5 separate regions of the Homo sapiens genome follow, and regions 1, 2, 4 and 5 are each linked to region 3. Evidence: fine-mapped expression QTL. A gene starts in region 3. Each other region holds a variant in brackets. All regions are shown on one strand. Distances are from middle to middle. Region 1 overlaps OTOF (otoferlin). Region 2 overlaps OTOF (otoferlin). Region 3 holds the start of OTOF (otoferlin). Region 4 overlaps OTOF (otoferlin). Region 5 overlaps OTOF (otoferlin).

The links. PIP is the estimated chance that this variant, and not a neighbour inherited with it, causes the effect. A credible set is the group of variants that fine-mapping cannot tell apart.
Region 1: its variant is the best candidate, but not a certain one, in a credible set for the expression of OTOF in transverse colon (GTEx, PIP 0.50).
Region 2: its variant is the best candidate, but not a certain one, in a credible set for the expression of OTOF in whole blood (INTERVAL, PIP 0.64).
Region 4: its variant is the best candidate, but not a certain one, in a credible set for the expression of OTOF in whole blood (TOPMed, PIP 0.82).
Region 5: its variant is the best candidate, but not a certain one, in a credible set for the expression of OTOF in whole blood (TOPMed, PIP 0.61).

The regions. Positions count from the first base shown.
Region 1 is chr2:26,473,510-26,477,624 of GRCh38, reverse strand. OTOF (otoferlin) reads left to right here. Exons shown (of 47, transcript NM_194248.3): 20 at 119-209; 21 at 337-453; 22 at 582-734; 23 at 1,308-1,497; 24 at 1,587-1,711; 25 at 2,132-2,266; 26 at 2,951-3,112; 27 at 3,515-3,634; 28 at 4,058-4,115. Among named protein-coding and RNA genes, the nearest start is that of DRC1, 74 kb to the right of the region's middle. RefSeq lists an enhancer at 1-66. The variant C/G (reference allele first, on the strand shown) is at 2,474.
Region 2 is chr2:26,507,370-26,511,484 of GRCh38, reverse strand. The region is part of intron 5 of OTOF (otoferlin); the gene reads left to right. Among named protein-coding and RNA genes, the nearest start is that of OTOF, 49 kb to the left of the region's middle. RefSeq lists an enhancer at 1-136. The variant G/A (reference allele first, on the strand shown) is at 1,984.
Region 3 is chr2:26,556,368-26,560,482 of GRCh38, reverse strand. OTOF (otoferlin) reads left to right here and starts at 1,727. Exons shown (of 47, transcript NM_194248.3): 1 at 1,727-1,990. The coding sequence starts at 1,912. RefSeq lists enhancers at 780-1,572, 1,573-2,366.
Region 4 is chr2:26,459,465-26,463,579 of GRCh38, reverse strand. It overlaps OTOF (otoferlin), which reads left to right. Exons shown (of 47, transcript NM_194248.3): 41 at 9-97; 42 at 1,399-1,497; 43 at 1,643-1,884; 44 at 2,550-2,728; 45 at 2,833-2,933; 46 at 3,375-3,572. The coding sequence ends at 3,555. Among named protein-coding and RNA genes, the nearest start is that of DRC1, 60 kb to the right of the region's middle. RefSeq lists enhancers at 1-728, 2,414-3,119. The variant A/T (reference allele first, on the strand shown) is at 2,352.
Region 5 is chr2:26,484,586-26,488,691 of GRCh38, reverse strand. It overlaps OTOF (otoferlin), which reads left to right. Exons shown (of 47, transcript NM_194248.3): 12 at 4,059-4,106. Among named protein-coding and RNA genes, the nearest start is that of OTOF, 72 kb to the left of the region's middle. The variant C/T (reference allele first, on the strand shown) is at 2,603.

The DNA.
Region 1 (4,115 bases), 83 kb after region 3:
GGGGGAGGATGAGGCGGAACTGGACAAAGGGGACCCTGCCAGGGCTGGGCAGATGAGGAAGAATCTACAGAGCCCCTGCTGGTCAGGCTCGCTAAACCCCGGCTCGCCCTACCCCCAGCCGCTTCCTCTCCCTCGCTGACAAGGACCAGGGCCACTCATCCCGCACCAGGCTTGACCGGGAGCGCCTCAAGTCCTGCATGAGGGAGCTGGTGAGGACGCAACTGGACGGCGGGGGCTGGAGGGAGGGCCTGGTTGTGAGAAGGTGTCACAACCCCCTTTGTCATGGCCCGAGCTGTCCCCCAGTTGCTGGGTTCACTGACACCCCCTCCTTCGCAGGAAAACATGGGGCAGCAGGCCAGGATGCTGCGGGCCCAGGTGAAGCGGCACACGGTGCGGGACAAGCTGAGGCTGTGCCAGAACTTCCTGCAGAAGCTGCGCTTCCTGGCGGACGAGGTGCGGCCCAAGGGGTCGGGGCTTTGCCTCATCCAGGGCTGGCTCTCTGGGGCCCCTCAGGATCAGGGGGCTCAATCAGGAGGCTAGACCCCCTTACCCACTGCCCCTGGCCACCCCCCAACCCCCAGCCCCAGCACAGCATTCCCGACATCTTCATCTGGATGATGAGCAACAACAAGCGTGTCGCCTATGCCCGTGTGCCCTCCAAGGACCTGCTCTTCTCCATCGTGGAGGAGGAGACTGGCAAGGACTGCGCCAAGGTCAAGACGCTCTTCCTTAAGGTGCTGGAGGGGGCAGGATGGATGGGGGCCTGGGTCCTTTCAGGGGAGCAGCAGCCCCCACCTGGGGCTGGAAGCCTGAGTGACAGGGTGGGGCCTTCAAGCAGCAGGTGCTCAGAGAAGAGCCAAGAATGGGAAGGACGTGGGGGAAGGGGTGGGGAAGGAGGTGGGGGAAGGGGTGGGGGAAGGGGTGGGGAAGGAGGTGGGGGAAGGGGTGGGGGAAGGGGTGGGGGAAGGGGTGGGGAAGGAGGTGGGGGAAGGGGTGGGGGAAGGGGTGGGGAAGGAGGTGGGGGAAGGGGTGAGGGAAGGGGTGGGGGAAGGGGTGGGGAAGGAGGTGGGGGAAGGGGTGGGGAAGGAGGTGGGGGAAGGGGTGGGGAAGGAGGTGGGGGAAGGGGTGGGGAAGGGGGCATGACGGCCCCCTGCCCATCCTCCTGCCTCCACCGGACCCCAGCCCAGCGGGATGGCTGTGAAGGGGCAGGGCAGCTCTGACCAGGGCCTCTGCCGGCCCCTGCCCCTTCCCCACCTCTTGGGCCCTGGCAGCCGTCAGGCTCCTGGTGACCCCATGCCCACCCCCAGCTGCCAGGGAAGCGGGGCTTCGGCTCGGCAGGCTGGACAGTGCAGGCCAAGGTGGAGCTGTACCTGTGGCTGGGCCTCAGCAAACAGCGCAAGGAGTTCCTGTGCGGCCTGCCCTGTGGCTTCCAGGAGGTCAAGGCAGCCCAGGGCCTGGGCCTGCATGCCTTCCCACCCGTCAGCCTGGTCTACACCAGTGAGTGAGGACCCCTCACTCGAAGCCTCACCTGGGAGGGGGCCGGAGGGGCTGCCCATCCTGGAACCTCAGGCTGCCCTTCCCCACAGAGAAGCAGGCGTTCCAGCTCCGAGCGCACATGTACCAGGCCCGCAGCCTCTTTGCCGCCGACAGCAGCGGACTCTCAGACCCCTTTGCCCGCGTCTTCTTCATCAATCAGAGTCAGTGCACAGAGGTGAGGGCCTGGGAGGAGGGAGTGGCTCTGGCTTTGAGAGCACCAGAAGCCTGTGAGCCTGTGGGGACTGGAGCCTGTGGGGCCTGTGAGCCTGTGGGGCCTGGAGCCACAGGTCAGCCAGTGCCCCGGTTTCTCAGGGGAAGCCCTGCAGATAACTGCAGCAGACGCGGGTCACACTGGAAAGGCTACGGGCTTTAGCTGTGGTTATATTCACAAGACAGGGACGACAAGGAGGACATTGGCAGGGGGCTTGGGCCAAACCTCATATTAGCCTTGATTTTAAGATTTCTGGAAGAATCAAGACACCTGTCACTCCTGCCCCCAGGTTCCGTGGAAGCTGAGTGAGTAGGGGTGGCTTCTGTTTGTGCATCTGCCCCCCCCTCTGTCACTTGTCCCCTGTCTCCCCATCCCATGCTGCAGGTGCTGAATGAGACCCTGTGTCCCACCTGGGACCAGATGCTGGTGTTCGACAACCTGGAGCTCTATGGTGAAGCTCATGAGCTGAGGGACGATCCGCCCATCATTGTCATTGAAATCTATGACCAGGATTCCATGGTATGGGTGGGCTCTGGTGCCAGGGACCCCAGCAGCACCACACCTGGCCCTTGTTCCCTGCACTCCACCTGCGCTGAGGCTGTGCCCTCACCTCCGCCACCCACCTGCAGAGCTCCTTGGCCAGGTGCTGGCTGGGAAGCTGGGAGTGGGGGCTGACATCTAGCTCCTCCTGCCTGCTTGCGGCAGCCTGACCCCTTCCCAGGCCAG[C/G]ACATCCTCACCTCCTGTCTCCTACAGACTGAGCCCTGGAGGTGTGCCAGCAAGTCCTGCTGTCACTAGCCTCCCCACCCCAGGGCTCCCCGACCCCTGCCCTCACCTACCACAACCAGTAACAGCCTTGCCATCCTCCGTGGAGGTTCTGGAGCAGGGAGTAAGGGATTGGGGTGACCCCCGAGAGTTAGCGAGCCACCTTCTCACATACCACCTCAGCTGCTGAGGTGCCCAGATAGCCCTGGACTAGAGGTAGGAGGACCTCATGTCTAGTCCTGAGCCGGGCATCTGCCATTTACTGACTGCTTGGCCTTGAACAAGTCTTTGGTGGGCCCTGAGACTTGGTTTCCTCATCTGTAAAATGGGGTGATCACACCTGTCCCTTACAACAACTCATGGCGCTGTGGTAAGGACCAAACGAGATCACAGGTGTGGACAGCAAGCACCAAGAGGCTTCTGGGTTGTCTGTTGCGTCAGGGCAAAGCTGACTTCATGGGCCGGACCTTCGCCAAACCCCTGGTGAAGATGGCAGACGAGGCGTACTGCCCACCCCGCTTCCCACCTCAGCTCGAGTACTACCAGATCTACCGTGGCAACGCCACAGCTGGAGACCTGCTGGCGGCCTTCGAGCTGCTGCAGGTGGGACTGCAGGGAAGAGGGGCTGAGGCCTGGGGACTGGAGGCTGGGAGTTGGGGCCTAGGGCTGGGGGCTGGACCCTGAAGGCTGGGGCCTGGGGTCTGGGGCCTGGGGGTGGGGCCTGGGGGCTGGAGGCTGGGGCCTGGGGCTGGGGGCTGGGGCTGAGGGCTGGGGCCTGGGGCCTGGGGGGTTAGGGCCTGGGCGTTAGGTCCTGGGGGTTGGGGCCTGGAGCTGGGGCCTGGGGGCTGGGGCCTAGGGGCCTCTCTCCTACCCATCCTGACCAAAGCTGGGGGCGTGGTCCTTAGGGGGTTTCCCTGTCTCCCCAGATCATGGCAAACAACTCATGGGGAAAGAGACCCTGTCCCTGGGCTCCCCAGTGTGTGACCTGTGACCCCCATTCCCCAGATTGGACCAGCAGGGAAGGCTGACCTGCCCCCCATCAATGGCCCGGTGGACGTGGACCGAGGTCCCATCATGCCCGTGCCCATGGGCATCCGGCCCGTGCTCAGCAAGTACCGAGTGGAGGTGCGAGGGCTCTGTGTGGCCCTTCCCTTTTGGATGAGGAGTCTGAGGACCCAGGAGGGGAAGTGGCTTGTCATCCCCCTCCCACCACCATCACCAGGAGCCAGCAGCAGACCCAGGCTCCTGCCCCAGCCCAGGGCCTGCCCCCATCTGCACCAAGTCGCACTCCCATGTCCCAGGACCATGCCCAGCCCTCCTGTCTGCACCCCTGACCCTGCACCCCTTCTCCGGGCAGCCCCACCCTCATCCCTGGAGAACGCCTGCCCCTCCTCTGCTCTCCTGGCCCTGCTCCCACCCTTTGAAATCTGGGGTGAACTACTGCCCATCCCACTGCCCGGTTCCCTATTGGATGGTCCAGCACCCCCATGGCTGGCTCCCTTGACTAAGGGGCTCTCTTCTCTGCACCCACCCTCCAACCTCTCCCAGGTGCTGTTCTGGGGCCTACGGGACCTAAAGCGGGTGAACCTGGCCCAGGTGGACCGGC
Region 2 (4,115 bases), 49 kb after region 3:
CTAATTGTTATTCACTTTCCTGTCTTCATCCTCATTGCCACAGCACTGGGAAAGCATTGAGAGAACATTCCAGAAAAGTTTTCTGGAAGCCTCCCTAAAGTGAGATAGGGGGGCCGTTTTTCCCTGCTCTGAGCCCTGGAGTGGTAGCTCACTTACCGCCCCACCTACACCCCTAGAACTGCCCCCAACCACCCGTGTGCACTCCATAGCAGGACCCCCAGCCCTGCCTCACCCTCACAGAGCAGGCTTAGCCCACTGTTCCCCTAGAGGCCCCCAGAGCCTGGGAGCTCCCACCCCATTGGAGGGGAGCAGGGGAGCAGGGGAGCCGGTGGGCAGAGGAGCAGGGTGGCCCAGGCCGGGAGGGTGGCCAGGCTCATCTAACCCTGTGTTCCCTGAGGAAGCTGCGACCCACATTGTGGAATCATCAGATCTTAGCCTGGTAGGGGCGATGAGCTGAGGCCCTGAGGTATCAGAGCTTGGGGTTGGAATAGTGGCCACCCAGGCCCAGCACTGTGGGCCCCTCCCATCTCCCCCAAGGCAGAACCCAGGGCCATGGGACCCCTTTTCTGCAGACCTAGGCTTGCTACCGTGCGAAGCTGTGGGGTGAGAGGTCTGTGGGACAAGGAGGCCCCCGGGGAGCGTGCAGGCCCGTGGGGCCGGGGCTGAGGCCAGTGTCTCTGGTCCACAGCCCCTCACACGTGTCCCCTTGTCTCCTCATTTCTTCCCCCTACTCAGCAAAGGCAGAGAGAAGACCAAGGGAGGCAGAGATGACGAGCACAAGTAGGTGTCCCAGGCGAGGGCAGACGCAACAGCGTCTCTGGGGAGACAGAGGCCTCCTCCCCACAGGCTGTGGAGGGCGGGATGGGCTCGGCTGAGAGGGCTCAGGAGTGGGCTGTCGTGGTAGAGCTGGCACGGGTCATGGAGGCCCAGGGAGGCCTTTTCACCTGGCCACGGGGGTGAGGGATGAGGAGGGGTTAGGGTCGCGGGGGAGGTGGCCAGACCTTCTGGTTTCCACTCTGGGCTCTCGGGGGTGACCATCCTCCTCTCCGTGTCTTGTTCCTCCTCCACTGTTCAGCCCCCATCCTGTGGCCTTCGGGCTTCCCTGGGAGGGAGGGGACAGCTAAAGGCTAAGGGGAGAGGGGCATGAGGACCTCAGGGATCCCTCTCCCAACAGGGGCGAGGTAGGGCCAGGCAGCTGGAGGCATAAGGAGGAGGAACTCTGGGTACCCTTTGCAGCTGCAGGTCGTGGGTGGAGTTGGAGACCCCCAGAAAGCTTAGGAGAGGCCACCATTTGGGCGGCCCTCTCTATCTTCATCTCCCCAAAAGGCTTCCTGGAAAAATGAGGTCAGGGTGCTGTCTGGAGAGGACAGGAGAAGGGTCCTGCAGGTGGGAGGGGCTGGTCACAAGGGTCTGGAAAGATTCGAAGGCTGGGAGTTGTGAATGGGTCTTGTAGGCACCCCTAGAAGCACACTGACATCTGGAGGACTCTAGCATTACGGGATCTCATAAGGGCAGTGGTAGCCAAGGTGGACCATACTGGAGGAGGCCTCTGGTTAACACCTGCTCTTACAGATGACAAATCTGTCTCAGAACAGGGGCAGAGCTGGAACCAGAAGACAGGGAAGCTGACTTCTGACCCAGAGCTCACCATAGACCCAGGAAATTTAGAGAACTTGACTGTATCTAAATTTAATCTAATTCTCCAAACATACCAATGAGAGCTGAAAAGCCAGGAGTGTGGTCTTTTTTATCTTCCAGATAAGCAACCTGAGCCCCAGAGATCTTAAGAGATTTGCTCAAAACTGTGGCCTCAATATATTAAGAATTAGTTCATCTGAAGATATCATGGAAATATCAGGATTGTGTGTTGAGGGGTCTGAACTGATCAACACTGGTGTGGGCTTGGGATATCCACTGGCATTAAGATCCTGGGGAACTCACAGCCTCATTCATTGCTTCAAAAAAAGGTATGAGTTCTAACTC[G/A]CATTTGTTACGCACAAGCAAAAGCAATGATGATGCAGTGTTAACTCTGTAGTGATGGAGGAAATGGCGCTGTGTAGGAAGAGCTCCAGCCCAGAGACCTGAAGGATGGAGGAGTTTGCCAGGTTCCCAGTAAGGGAAGACACGTAGGCAGAGCATGTGTCAAGGCTCAGAGCCAGGGAACTGAATCCAGGGTGGGTGGCGATGATGGGGAATGCTGAGCTGGGGAGTCCTCTTAGGGAGTCCTCAAGGGTTCAGGTTTCTCCATAGATGCTTAGATGTAAAGGGCATATGAATGAGATACAAGCAGCCTGTCCATCCCCAGCTTCTCTGCCTGAGATCAGCGATGCTCTAAGGCCCTTCTTGATGCCCAGCTTCCCAGTCTGTCCCAGGCCAGACCCACAGGGACACAGACTGGCCTGATCCCTTTGACTGGCTACAGTTGGAGTAAGAGGTACCTCACAGTGCCAGCACATAGTAGGTCCACCAAAATACTGGTTTCCTAGCACTTCTCTGTCCTAATTTCTTACCATCTCTAATTAGCACATGAGATAAAGTAAACTGGCATATAGTATTGTTATTATTATTATGTGTAGAGCAATAGGACTATTGAAAGAATAGGAAAATGAGATTTCTAAGAAGAGATTGAACAAATTTAAACTCTTTAGCCTGGAGGAGAGAAAACTGTGGAGACAGATTTCAATCTCTGAAATGTTAATGTGTGGCAAAGCTGGTTGGTATCTATCTCCACTGAGAAGAGATAAATGGAAATAAATTTAAGTTGAAGTTAAGTTGAAGTAGAGAAACAAGATTCAACCCACGAAAGAACTCATAGTGTGTGACATTCTGGGATAGGCTGGTTTGGGGAGATGAGAAAACACCCATCATCTTCCATGATGCTGCTTGCTTGAGCCTTGCAAAGGGCTGGGCCGCCAGCAAGAACTGAAGAGCCAGCTTCCCTGACAATCCTGGGGTCAGGACAAGTGTGTGTGGGTCCCCCAAGCCTTCTGGTACAACGTGGGCACATGTGCAAACGGGCCAGTTTGGAGACAGGGTGGTTCTTGTATAAAGGGTCAGCCTATCCTGCCCACCTATGGAAAGCTATTCAAAAACTAACTGACATTCAACACACTTTCAAAGACACCTGTAAAGACCAAAATTATGAAATTCCCTGTGCCTTGGGGCATGGAAAATTTTTAAAATAAACCCATTTAGGGGCGCTTGGATAACATGCTCCGAGGTTTTGAAAATTGGGCTGTTTGAGCAATGCAAAGAAGGACCACAGACCCTATTTCTCATAGACAGGAGTCTTTATCCTGATTGATTACCTGAGGCCTGAGCTAATGAGCCTAGTAGTTCCAGTTGAAGCCAGTCATGGGGCAGAAGCCCTGGGCAGTGAATGGACTCGACCTGCAGCTCATTTATGGTCAGGTCTCTATTAGCTTTCAGAATAATCCAGAGACCTGAATTAATGAAACACTCGGGTCACTAAATTTAGTTTGGTGAATGTTCCCAAGTCATTATGAATACTAAGCTCTACCTAGGACCCTGTGTGCACCACACAGCAACACGCTTCTAAATCTGGGCCATAAAATGAGCGGAGAAATCATCAGATTTATAGTTTACAATAAGTGAACTAATTTTAGCATTTTTTTCCTCTAGAGATAAATACCAGTCTAGATTGTAGGTGCATTTCATTCTGACCATGGTGAATGTAGCCACAGGAAACTCAAACGGATTCTAAATCCTCAGAGGGTCCTGGGATACTGGCCTCCCCTTGGCTCTCACTTCTCAAGCTTTAATACGCCCAAGAATAAGGAGCCATTTGATTGTAAAGTGAGTTTTCACTGAGTTGATTATTGGCTTGTTTTCTTTGTCTGTTTCTCACCATATCCTGTTTTTGGTAATTGTAGAACTCAACTAGACCAAATGCAGAATTTTACTTTGAAAACAAAAAAAGGCCAGGACAACGGACACCTCAACAGCAAATTACATTTTTTGAAATCTAAGTCTTTCAGACAAATAGATAATCTTCAAAATTCCCTGATTAAGTTGACATTTATTTCAAAACTCTCCTTTACAGTTTGCCAAGAGAAGTAGGCATACTGCTTTCTGGGAACTGGTGCTGCAATCAG
Region 3 (4,115 bases):
ATTCAGCATAGATCAATGCCTTGGCTAGGGCAGGATCATGGGCTTTTTCCTAAAGATGCACAGGGTCTATAAGAGGCCTCATGAAATTCACTCCTTTCAGGGGAGGACCTCCAGAGAACCAAGGAAGAAGATATTTTCTGTTGTTGTTGTTGTACCTTGTAGTCACCAAGCCTTAAAAACACAGATCACCTGATGACCTCATGGATGGAAAATGCTAGTGAATTTAGGTGTTTTTTTTTTTAAGACATTAAACTTATCTAGCTTTTGAAAATTTAGCATTCATACTTGTATTCAATAAACAGAATACTCTAAGACATTTTTAAATTCAATATGATTAGATAAATGTGAGAAAGGTAAGCAAGAATTGGTTAGGAAAAAGTGCAAAGGAAAAAAACGTAAGTAGAAAAAGAAAAATAGGGCACAGTAGCAAGGAAATATCTAGAAGGAGGAAAGAAGGCTCTTGGGACATACTGTAGGTTATTTGGAATGCAGAATTCAAAAGAAGTAACCTCTTGTTACCATGCTGTGAAAAATTAGTATTTCTCTTTTTAACCTTTAGACTCTGTTTCAGGTAGATCCCTGAGCTCACTCTTTTATCCTTTCAACAGTAATTGGGCATCCTACGGTGCACAGGATACCATGTGGGGCTCTGGGGTAGAGGGATGCTGTGCTCCAGGGCCCTCCTGAGGTCAGGAGGGGAAAAGGCAAGGGAAGCAGCCCCAGGACTCAGTAAGATGAGAGGAGGCAGGAGCAGCACAGAGGAGGACCCCAACCCAGCTGGGGTGCGGGTACAGAGGCACCTCCAGGAGCAGGCACTCAAGCTGAGTCCAGGGTGGGGTGGAGGGCATTCCACCAAGAATGAATAGCAAGAACAAGGCTGCAGATGACCCTGCACAGATTCCAGCATCAGGGATTCTGGCCCCCAGCGTCCCTTTCCTTGGTGTATGCTGCTGGAAGACAGGAGGGGGCAGTTCTCTTTTGGTCCTTAGAAATTTCCCTATAGACATCCCTTCTCCTGCCCCTAGCAGCTTATAACAGCAGAAGGCCATTCAATTCTGCTCCTCTGGCTGGAAAGCAAACATCAGCCTGGCTTACCTTCGCTAGCCTGCCTGACCCCCAGCCTTGGGGTGGGGCTAGGTTAGTGCCCTGGATCCTTAAACATGGCCCCTGGTAGCACATAAGCCTCTGCTGCCTCCACAACCAGCCATCTCCATCATGCATGGCCTGGTCCTGAGCCTCCCCTCAGGCAGCAGCCCCAGCCTCTCTGCTTCCTGAGATTCAGAAACAGGGATCCCAGGGCAGGGCTCAGGGCCCAGCCTCTTGGGGGCACAGTCTCCAGCAGGGAAGAGGTGGGCGTAGGTGGACAAATACATTCCCTTCTTCTTGTAGTGTGCCCCTGTGGGTGGGAGTGCCCCCCGCCCCACATCCACCCTACCTATGCTCATGCCCACTCCTCTGTGCCCACTACTGGTGGCAGGGCTTGCTTAGCAGGGAAGCAGCAGAGCCCTGCAGAGGGGTGGGCAGAGCCTCCCTTCCAGGAGCTGGGAGAAGACACCTGAAGCTGGACAGAGCTTTATCTGGGAGCCGGCGGCTGCTGAATAATGAATTCCAACTCTGCCGCACTCCCAGGCTGCACATTGGGTGCACACACACACACACACACACGCACACACCGATACACACACGCTGGGCTGACAACTTGGAGGGGCGGGGGCTGTGAGGCTCTGTGAGTCGCTGCAGGAGCAGCTTAGCTCGGCTTGGTTGCCTTGGTCTCTGTGGGCAGCATCGGAGGGGGGTCGGGAGGAGGAGGAGGAGGCAGCGGCAGAGAAGAGAGAGGCGTGTGAGCCGTGCTCCACCGGCTAGCTCCTTCCCGCTGCTCCTGCCTGGCAGTGCCAGGCAGCCCACACCAGCATGGCCTTGCTCATCCACCTCAAGACAGTCTCGGAGCTGCGGGGCAGGGGCGACCGGATCGCCAAAGTGACTTTCCGAGGTAGGGAAGCCGCTGTCTCAGAGGGACGCCAGCTCTGAGAGCTGGACCAGCCCATGCTCTGGAGGTGGCCGGGGATAGGACAGGGCTGGGAGGATGGGTGGGAAAAGTTCTAGCAGGGGCTGGGGCGACGAGCCTTTTCACAGGTAGTCATCTGCCTGGGACTGACTGGCCATTGTGATTTCTGGAAAATCAGGGTCCCCTGTTCTTCCATGCCTGTGTCTCCTTGTGCTTGCCAACATGCCAGTTCCCCGGGCAGGGCACAGAGCCCTCTGCCTGGGGAGGCAGAAGTGAGGACCACATCCCTGAGCTCAGGGAGACCCAGGACCCCCTCCTTCTCTCTCTCTCCCTCTCCTGCAGGTTGATTTCCTTGAGCACAGGGTGGGGGCCGGGTATGGAGCCTGGGGCACCCAGGGTGACTGGGAGAAACCAGGCAGCCAGTAGCTCCCTGGGCCCCAGAGTGATGGGGGACACTGTTGGCTTCTTTTAGATCTATTCATGGGCGGGAACCCCGGGAGCCCCTCGCCTCTCTTCTGTCTGGTCTTTTCTCATCCTTTTCACTCCTGTATTCAGCGACCATTTATTATGATCTACTGTGTCCCAAGGATAGGGGTAGAAACACAGAGCTGAGCACAACCCAGCCCCAGCCCCAAGGAGCCTGCATCTGTTGGGCAGGCGTGGAACAAGCAGGACAGGTATGTGAGACAGAAGGTGGGGGTGCAGCATGCAAGCTACAGAAGCAGCACCCTCACCCAGGCTGGTGACCGGTGGTCAGGGAAGGCTTCCCGGAGGAAGTAACACTCAGCTAATACCCGAAGGACCAGCGGGTGGGAGCTAGGAGAGGAGGTAAGGACTGAGGAGGCAGAGGAAACAGTGTGCCCAGAGCTGAGAGAGGAGCTGAAACTCTGGAACTGAAAGAGGTTCCATGTGTCTACAGCTCAGAGAGGGTGCAGGAGCGGAGGCCAGAGAGCCAAGCAGGGCAAGGAGGCGAGGCTGGACCTGACCCCGGGGACAGCGGAGCCCCTGAGCATTTTAAGTGGGGAAAGGCAGGGCCAGGCTGACTCTGTCCTTCACCACCCACCTCTGCCTCTCCATGTGGTTGCTGCCCAGCCCTGAGGGTTGGGGGTACTTCTCACTAGACATGGCCCCTTCTCCCGAGAGAGGGGTCTGAGAGTGGGATGGGGACGAGGTGGTGAGAAGGGGGCAGAGAGGACCCCCCTATACTAAAGAGCAAAGTGAGCCTTGGGGCCCAGGCTGGACACAGTGTCTGCACCTCTGTTGGAAGGGATGGGAGAGACCATTGGCAGAACATTCCAGCAAGAGCCCTGGGGCACCCACATCACCTACCCAGAGGCCCTGGGATGCCCACATTGCAGCTTGTGTTCATAGGGACAGGCAGGGGTGGAGGTGATGGCAGTGGCCCTGCCGGCAGGCGGAGGTTAGGCAGGAGGGAGAGGGAGGTGTGGGCTGGGCTGCCTTTTGCCTCCCACCCCAACCCACTGACTGCTTTCTCTGCAGCACCCTGGATCTCCCTCTGTGTGCCACCTGCAGGCTCATGCTGGCTTTAGAAAAAGCAAATGTGTCCTTTCATCTGTGAAATGTGGCCCTGAGCTCCACGGGCAGCATAGTGTGGGGCGGTTAAGCTACAGGTTGCCATCCTGCTGCAGCTGTGCTGGAACGGTCCAGGCTGCACCGGACAGGCCCACTTGCAGGCCGAGAAACCAAGGTTCAGGGGTAGAACACTGCGCGTGGCATTCACGGAGGAGCTGAGGCACGGTGGTCCCAGCTCTCAGGACCTCATCCTGAGTACTCAATCTTGCAAGCTCTTTATCTGCTCCTGGGCCACCTGGGGGCCAGCACCTTGTCTGACACCCATCTTCTCCTTGGAGCAGTGAAGGGCTGGGCCTTTAGCCTCACTGACCACACAGGAATTAGTTTATTTGCAACCCTTGCTCTCTGGACTGAGTGGAGAAATCGCTTCCAAGCTCCACATTGGCAGGAGGTGGCCATGGGCAGAGCTCCTGGGGAAGGGGGCTGGGCAGCAGGAATAGGCAGATGACAAGCAGTTTCCAGAAAGTACCTTTATTACAACGAAAGATGCCTCAGCCGCTCACCTGTGTCATCTAGC
Region 4 (4,115 bases), 97 kb after region 3:
TTCCTCAGGGCCGCCTGGAGCTGTGGGTGGACATGTTCCCCATGGACATGCCAGCCCCTGGGACGCCTCTGGACATCTCACCTCGGAAGCCCAAGAAGTGAGCGGCCTGGGGCCCAGCGCTACTCCCTTCCGGCCCACCCCACCCACTTCCCACCACGGCCCAACCCTTCCTGCGGGGGGCTCAGGTCCAGATGGCCTTGGCCAGTTGGCATCCCTGGGGCCTGGGTGTGGCCACTGGGCCTTATAGGGGAGAAACTGACCAACCAATCGATAGAGTTTAGGGCCTGCCCTGGAGAGTCCCCACGTGCTAAGGCAGGACAACGCCTTCCACCCTGCATCAGTGAGCGAGACAAGCCCCACACAGCACACTCCGGTGCATTGTATCTACACGGTCTACGCGCCCATACACATGCATCTCATGCACACACACACACACAGCATAGCACTCCCACGGACACCCACACACATGCCCACACTGACGCACTCCTTCACAACACACAGAACCCCTGGGAGCCGGCCCTGCGTCATCCTCACATCCAGGCTAGTGTGATGTTCCGCCAAGTTTTCTTTGGAGTGCCTGCCAGTGATGAATCCAGGAGTGAGTGCCTGGAAGAGGCAGGAGGTGGTAGAGTGAAAAGAACCCGGGTTTCCCATCCATAAAGCGGCAGGTTCAAGTCCAGCTGTCAGACAGTGACTGGATTCAGGGCCAGCTTCAGGGATGGAGGAAGCCACACAGGGTCCCACTCTTGTTTCCATGCTCCTATGTTGCCATCTTGAAATTCTTTATGACAAGTGACCCTGCATTTCCATTTGGCGCTGGCCCCAGCAAATCATGCAGCAAATTCTGCCAGGAATGTCCTGGAAACCTGAGGCCATGAGTCAGCTGTTCCAGGGCCTGTCATTAGGGGGCACCCAACTCACTGGGCCACTCTGGGCTCGCAGCCCTGTCTGCAATCCCAGGAGAGCCATGCTCAGATCAATTTTTAGTGAATGACTCAGCCTCACTCTTAATGATTGAAATGAACTACATCATTCATAATTACAATTAAACCTTGAGGGGAAAATCCTCTTTGGGGACAGGGACATACAGCTTCCATGGGCTTCCATTGCTGGCTACTGGGCTTAAATGCAGACTTCTCTTGGAACTAGCATCTGAGACAGAGGGTGGCTTCCTCCCCTCACCCCACCCCCACCGCCCACAGCCATGTGCCTGGTGGGCCTTCTCACTCATGCCTCTGCTCCCCCAACCCCAAACCACTCCTCCAGCCCCAGCCTGGCCCAGGCCCTGTGCTGACCCCAAGACCCCAGGGCTTCTCTCCGCCTGCCCCATCCCAGCCCTGGCACCCTGGCATAACCCCCACCTGGGGCTGCTAACCAGCCTTCTCTCCCTGGGCCCAGGTACGAGCTGCGGGTCATCATCTGGAACACAGATGAGGTGGTCTTGGAGGACGACGACTTCTTCACAGGGGAGAAGTCCAGTGACATCTTCGTGAGGGGGTGGGTGAGCAGTCCCTGCATGGGAGGGACTGAGCTGGGTGGGGCTTGCTTCCCGGGGGGCAGGAGAGGAGGCAGAGGGAAGGTGGCTGTGGGTGGGAGAGGCCCCACCAGCCTGGCTGCGGGTCTGGAGATGTGGCGCCCACAGGTGGCTGAAGGGCCAGCAGGAGGACAAGCAGGACACAGACGTCCACTACCACTCCCTCACTGGCGAGGGCAACTTCAACTGGCGCTACCTGTTCCCCTTCGACTACCTGGCGGCGGAGGAGAAGATCGTCATCTCCAAGAAGGAGTCCATGTTCTCCTGGGACGAGACCGAGTACAAGATCCCCGCGCGGCTCACCCTGCAGATCTGGGATGCGGACCACTTCTCCGCTGACGACTTCCTGGGTGCAGAGCAGGGCAGGGATGGGGGTTCAGGATCCAGAACTGAGAAGAGGCAGGGGCCGGGTTGGCGGGGACAGGGAGAGCCCTGCCTTGGGGGGACAAGGGGTCATTGCTTCCAGTCCATCAGAGCCAGGGGTGTCCGACGGGGTTCCGCCCCCAAGGACCCACCTAACCGTCCCTAGGCAGATGTTCTCAGTGTCATAACCAGGCTGACAACAAGCTTTGGACACACCAAGGAGGGGGCAGTCAGTGATGATGGGGGAGGGGAGAGGCTCCCTAAGGGAGTCGGGAAACCTCCCTGGGCCTCAGGTTGCTTCTCTGTAAAGCAGGGATTCTCCCTAAAACTCTAATCTGCATCTGCAAAAGCTTGTGGGATTAGCAGGACTTTGACAGAATGGATGCATGGCAGGGAGTGGCAGGGGAGACCCCAGGAGAGACCCTCTGGGGTGAAAGAAGGACCTGAGTAAAGC[A/T]TGGGGGCTGGGGCTGCCTAGCAAGCCCACGAGGATGCCTGCATTGAGGCCAGTTGCTGGGAGTGAGGCAGGAGGATGAGATGTGGGCTCAGGGAGGTCTGCACTCAGCAAACAAGGGGCCGAGGAGCCCAGACCCCCACCCCCACCCCGCCCCACCCCAGCCCTGTTCACTCTGAGCTGACACTGAGGTTGCCACAGGGGCCATCGAGCTGGACCTGAACCGGTTCCCGCGGGGCGCAAAGACAGCCAAGCAGTGCACCATGGAGATGGCCACCGGGGAGGTGGACGTGCCCCTCGTGTCCATCTTCAAGCAAAAGCGCGTCAAAGGCTGGTGGCCCCTCCTGGCCCGCAATGAGAACGATGAGTTTGAGCTCACGGTGCGCACCCCTTCCTGCTCGGGCAGTAGGCAGGGCTGGGACTGGCTGGGGTGCCAAGGGCCCAGCACGCAGCCTGGACGCTGGGACCTGTCTGTCCTCTGCAGGGCAAGGTGGAGGCTGAGCTGCATTTACTGACAGCAGAGGAGGCAGAGAAGAACCCAGTGGGCCTGGCCCGCAATGAACCTGACCCCCTAGAGAAACCCAAGTGAGTGCCCTGCCGGCCCAGCCCCTCCCCACTCTGGCTCTTGGAGGCGCTGGAACAGGAAGGAGACGATCCCCAGACACCCCATCTCTTCCTGGGCCACAGCCTCATTACAGGGGAGCCTCCTCCCTGCCCTCTGCCAACCCTGAATCCCACAACGTCCCTTTGAACCAGAGGATGGGCTAGGAATACTGGAGAGCAGGACCTTCCCTGGGAAAGGCCCCATCTAGCGGAGAGAAACTATGCTCTTCCCTTCCTAGCTTTTGCAGAAGAGCCAGCTCCAGTGGTGGCCTCTGGGGCCATGGCCAGCCTTGATGGCCAGAGGGGTGCCTAGAACTGCACACACAGCCCAGGACAGCTTCCCTCTTGGTCTTGGCCCCTCGCCACACCCAATCCCTTCTCCTCCCTGTCCCTCCTCTGCGCTCTCTACCCTTCATACTCCAGCCGGCCCGACACGAGCTTCATCTGGTTCCTGAACCCTCTCAAGTCGGCTCGCTACTTCTTGTGGCACACGTATCGCTGGCTGCTCCTCAAACTGTTGCTGCTCCTGCTGCTGCTCCTCCTCCTCGCCCTGTTCCTCTACTCTGTGCCTGGCTACCTGGTCAAGAAAATCCTCGGGGCCTGAGCCCAGTGGCCTCCTGGGTCTGATATTTCTTACTTCTTCCTCTGGACCAAGGGCTAGGCAGGCGCGTGCACACACACACATATACACGCACACATCCACAAACACAAATATGCATACATGTGCACACAAACACACACAAGCATGTATGCACACATGTGCCACGCACAAGTGCATACACATGCACTCAAGCACACACAGGCACACACTTAAGCCCACACAAACATGCACAGCAACTTTCAAGCTTTCATGACAGAATAGACTCTCAGAACTAGAAATGACTATTTTACACTTTTCCACATTAAGCCAAAGAGGTGAAGTAGCTTGCTCAAGGTTACCCAGCAAATTAGGGTAGAGCCGGGACTCAAGCCAAGGTTTCCAAATTTCCAATCCTGTGTTCTTTGCACACCACCTCTGCTCCCAGCCATGTTTCTCCCAGACTGTAACCCAATTTTTTTTTTTTTTTTTTTTTTTTGGAGACAGAGTCTCGCTCTGTCGCCCAGGCTAGAGTGCAGTGGCACAATCTTGGCTCACTGCCAGCTCCGCCTCCCGGGTTCACGCCA
Region 5 (4,106 bases), 72 kb after region 3:
AAGTCAGGCTGTGTGTCCCCAGAGCCTCACTGAGCCACACTATCCAATCTGAAAGCGGTGATGCTGGTCAATGCCAGATGTAGTGCGGCGGCCTCTGAGGGACTCTGGTCTCTGAAAACACTTCTTACAAGAGCCCCAGGCTTTTGGGCAGCCATGTGTGCTCCGTGGCGTCCTGTAGGGTAACAGCAATGGTGTTGGCAAGGGAACCCCAAGGGGTGGCCCAGAGGGCTTGTGAGGTGGGCCAGGCAGAGGAAGTGCCTCAGCCTGCCAGATGACAGCTCACCACGTGGGCAGGTTAGGGACCACCCTGTGTCCCTGAAGTGAATGCACTGCTCAGAGTGCTGTAATGACCCCATTAGGCGCTTTGACAGTGAGAACATAATTTCACCCAATTGTCACATTGGGCCCTCACAAAACAGTAATGTAGGCAGCAGCATTTCTTCCCATTTTGCACATGAGATAAATGAGGCTAAGAGAAATGAAGGGGCTTAGAGATACCACTAAACTAGTAGGTTGAACAAATTGGCGATCGCTTGTGGTTCAACCTAAGAGACGTCCAGCTGGTGCACATTACAACTATGACTTAGACCAGGGAATCTGAGTCCAAAACCAAGATTATACACATAAAAATCACAAGATCATAGAACACTCAAGCTGCCCAAGACCTGAAAAACATCTAGTCCAGCCTCTGTGAAGATAAACTGAAGCCCAAGGTGATGAAGGGGTTTGTCCACCATCTAGGAGTAGCACCCCTGTCTCCAGCTCCCAGGCCAGTGCCTTTGCCACCACCCCACACATGCCATAGCCCTCAGCGGAGGGCAGCCCTGCTGACCATCAGTGCCATGGGGAGCAGGGAAGAGTCGGCCTCCTGCCATGTTGCTTTCCAGGAAGCATGCATAGCCGTGGACTACTTGCTTGGAATGACTGGCATCCCTGAGGATAAGCTCCTCCCAGGGCTGAGCAGTGGCCCTGGTACCACTGGCAGGCCTGAGGCCGAGAGCCAAGAGAAAGTCAGGGGGTGGAGAAAAAGGCAGATATTAGTCTAATATGGACCTCTGGGCTTCTGGGTAGTAAAGTCCTGGTGAGGAAACCACCAGGGCATCAGTAAGTGCCAGATGTTGGGCTAAGCTCACTGTCCCAGCAGGCCTCACCCTCACGACCCCATATAGGCATCATTCCCATTTCACCATAAGGAAACTGAGGCTCAGCAGGCTTAAACAGCTGGTCCAGGGCCACATTGTGAGTAAGCGGCAGAAACAGGATGTGGGCCGAGGTCTCCACTTGGGTAACCTAGCTCGAGATTTGCTGCTTCTGCTGAATCCAGCCCTGAGCCTGGTGCCCTCCCAGGGACAGGAGAGCCTGAAGTCACATGGGTCCTGGAGTTGAGACCCAATGTCTTTACTCTGATATCTCCAGTTTGGCCTGAACTTCTTGATGAGTCGTTGGTTCCAGCCAGGGCATTGTTGGACAGCATGCTCCCAGAGACACTCCTGGGTGCTGCTGGGAAGCTTTGGGTGGTGTCGATATCTCTTGGAACTGGAAGGGGTTTCCCGAGAGAACCTCTTCTCACCCTGGCAGGACCACATTTTGTCATTTGTACCACCAGATGCAACATCAGGAAACTGTTTACTGTTTGCTACTCTCTGTTGGGGGTGAGGACGGGCCATACACTCATCCTCATAGATCATAGAGGAAGTCAGGGGCATACACTCATCCTCATAGATCATAAAGGAGGTCTGGGATGCAGCAACTTCCCCAGCTGGGCTACCCTTGACTGGCAGGTGTCAGCCCCAGGCTGAAGGGAGGTGAAATGATGTTTCAGGCTGGTAAGCATATAGCTCAGGATCTCATGTGGTCCTTGTATCTCTAGCCTGAGATCACACAGTATTAGGACTAGAAGGGCCTCAGAAGTCATGAGTCAAGTGTTAACCTGATGTAGGGACCCCCACAGCACCATCTCTGATTGGTCCTCTAACCTTGCTTAGTCCTCCCAGAAATGGGGCACTCACTACTTCTTATTTTAGATATCTTCACTTTCTTTAGGTCATCTCAAAATCTGTCACCCTGTAACCTTCACCCACTTTCACACGTCTCTCTTTCAGGACAAAAAGAAAAATAGCCTTTAAATTTGAAGGTAAATTTTACATTCCTCCTGAACCGTATTCTCTTTCTTTGCTAAATGTCCCCAATTCATCTAACCATGCACACCTCTATACATCTACCCCTGTATCCATCCATCCACTCACCCACCCATCTACAAATCCATCCACCCACCTGTCCACAGATCCACCCACCCATCCATGTATCCATCCATTCACGCACCAATCCATATATCCATTGGTCCACCCACCCACCCATCCGTGAATCCATCCACCCACCCACCCGCCTGTCTACAGATCCACCCACTCACCCATATATCCATCCATCCACCCACCCACCCATCCATATATCTACCCACCCATCTATCCACAGATCCATCCACCTACCCACCCATCCACAGATCCACCCACCCATATATCCACCCATCCACCCACCCATCCATATATCTACCCACCCACCTGTCCACAGATTAATGGCTCCTTCTATCCAGTAATCCATTCAC[C/T]ATCTGTCCGTCTATCTCTCAGCCGGCCAGGCAGCTCACCACCCATCCCTCTGCCCATTTATGCACCCATTCATTGAGCTTTCTGTCCATCTCCTCATCCGACACACATCTGCTCTGGCAAGACCTGAAGCTCCTGGGATTCCTGGGACATGGCCCCTCCCTGGAGGCCTGCCAGCCTGGCTGAGGTTCTCCAGTGACTCCTCATCCACGTGCCTTCCTGCCCTCTCACCTTGCTTGTCCCTCTCTTCAGACTCTACTGTGGCATTATCTTTTCTGAGACACAGGTGGCCTGGCTATTCCCAGAAAGGCCAACCTCTGTACACAGCCCCTAACATCTCCGGGAGCCCACCAGGGCCACAGGCTTGCAGGACACAGGCCTGGGCTACGGTAGAAGGTGGAAGAGGAGGGAGTGAAGGAGGGAGGTGCTGAGTCCCTGAGAGTTCAGTGCCCACCTAACATCCCGGGAAGCAGATTCCTAAGGCACAGTGATGCGCTTCCCTTTGCTTGCCCACTGGGCTTAAAGTAAACCTGAAGGGGCAAATCCTTCCTAAAGCGCCTCCTTCCCTGACATCCGTCCTTTCCTCCACACAGTCATAGGTCATGGGACACTGGGATGAGACTGACAATCCCTGTCTTTAGGAGACTCTCAGTCTAAAATCAGAGCCAAACAATACCCAGATCAGCACAGTGAGATGGGAGGTGTGCATGGAGAGCACAGAGAACAAACACTAAAGAGCCCAGGATCAACTCTTCCGAGGAAGTCAGGGAGGGCTGCATGGAGGAGGAGAGACTTGAGCAAAATGAGTAGAAGTTTACAAATTGAATAGGGAGAAAGACAGGTGGAGGTGGAGAGAACAGGAATGAGGGCATTCCAAGCTCAAAGAGCAGCAGATGCAAAGGCATGGAGGTATAAAAGGGCATATAAAACCGCAACACCTGTTCAGCAAGGAGGAACACAGGGCTGGGTGGGCTCAGCAGAGTGAGTCAGGGAGCACTAAATCAGGAGCCTGCAGGCCATGCCTTTTGTCTTCACCCCAAGGCACTGGGAAGCCCCAGAGGGGCTGAAGATGGGGAGCAGGAGCATGAGCCTCCACCTGGGAAGGCCCTGTGTGCAGCTGTGTCCTTCACAGCTATGTGAAGGCTGGCTGACTGGGGTGGGGCCATAGAAGAGGCCACAGGCAGAAAAACCCAATTAGGAGGAGGCTGTCGTGCTTCCAAGTCACACCACTCATGGGATATATGTCCATGGGCAGGCCATGCACCCACTGCCCCAGCTCCAGAGGACCTCAGACTCTATCACACCCTGGGCTAGGGACAGGCAGAGCTGTGGCCCCAGGTCCCGGGACTCTAGGGACCAAGACAGCATTTGGTTCTGCCACCCCTTGGCCTGCCCTGAGCACTGGGAGACGCTCTGGGTGGGGGTGTCTGGTGCAGTGCCCACCCCTCATCATTGCAGAGCACCAGTTCCATCACAAGTGGGCCATCCTGTCTGACCCCGATGACA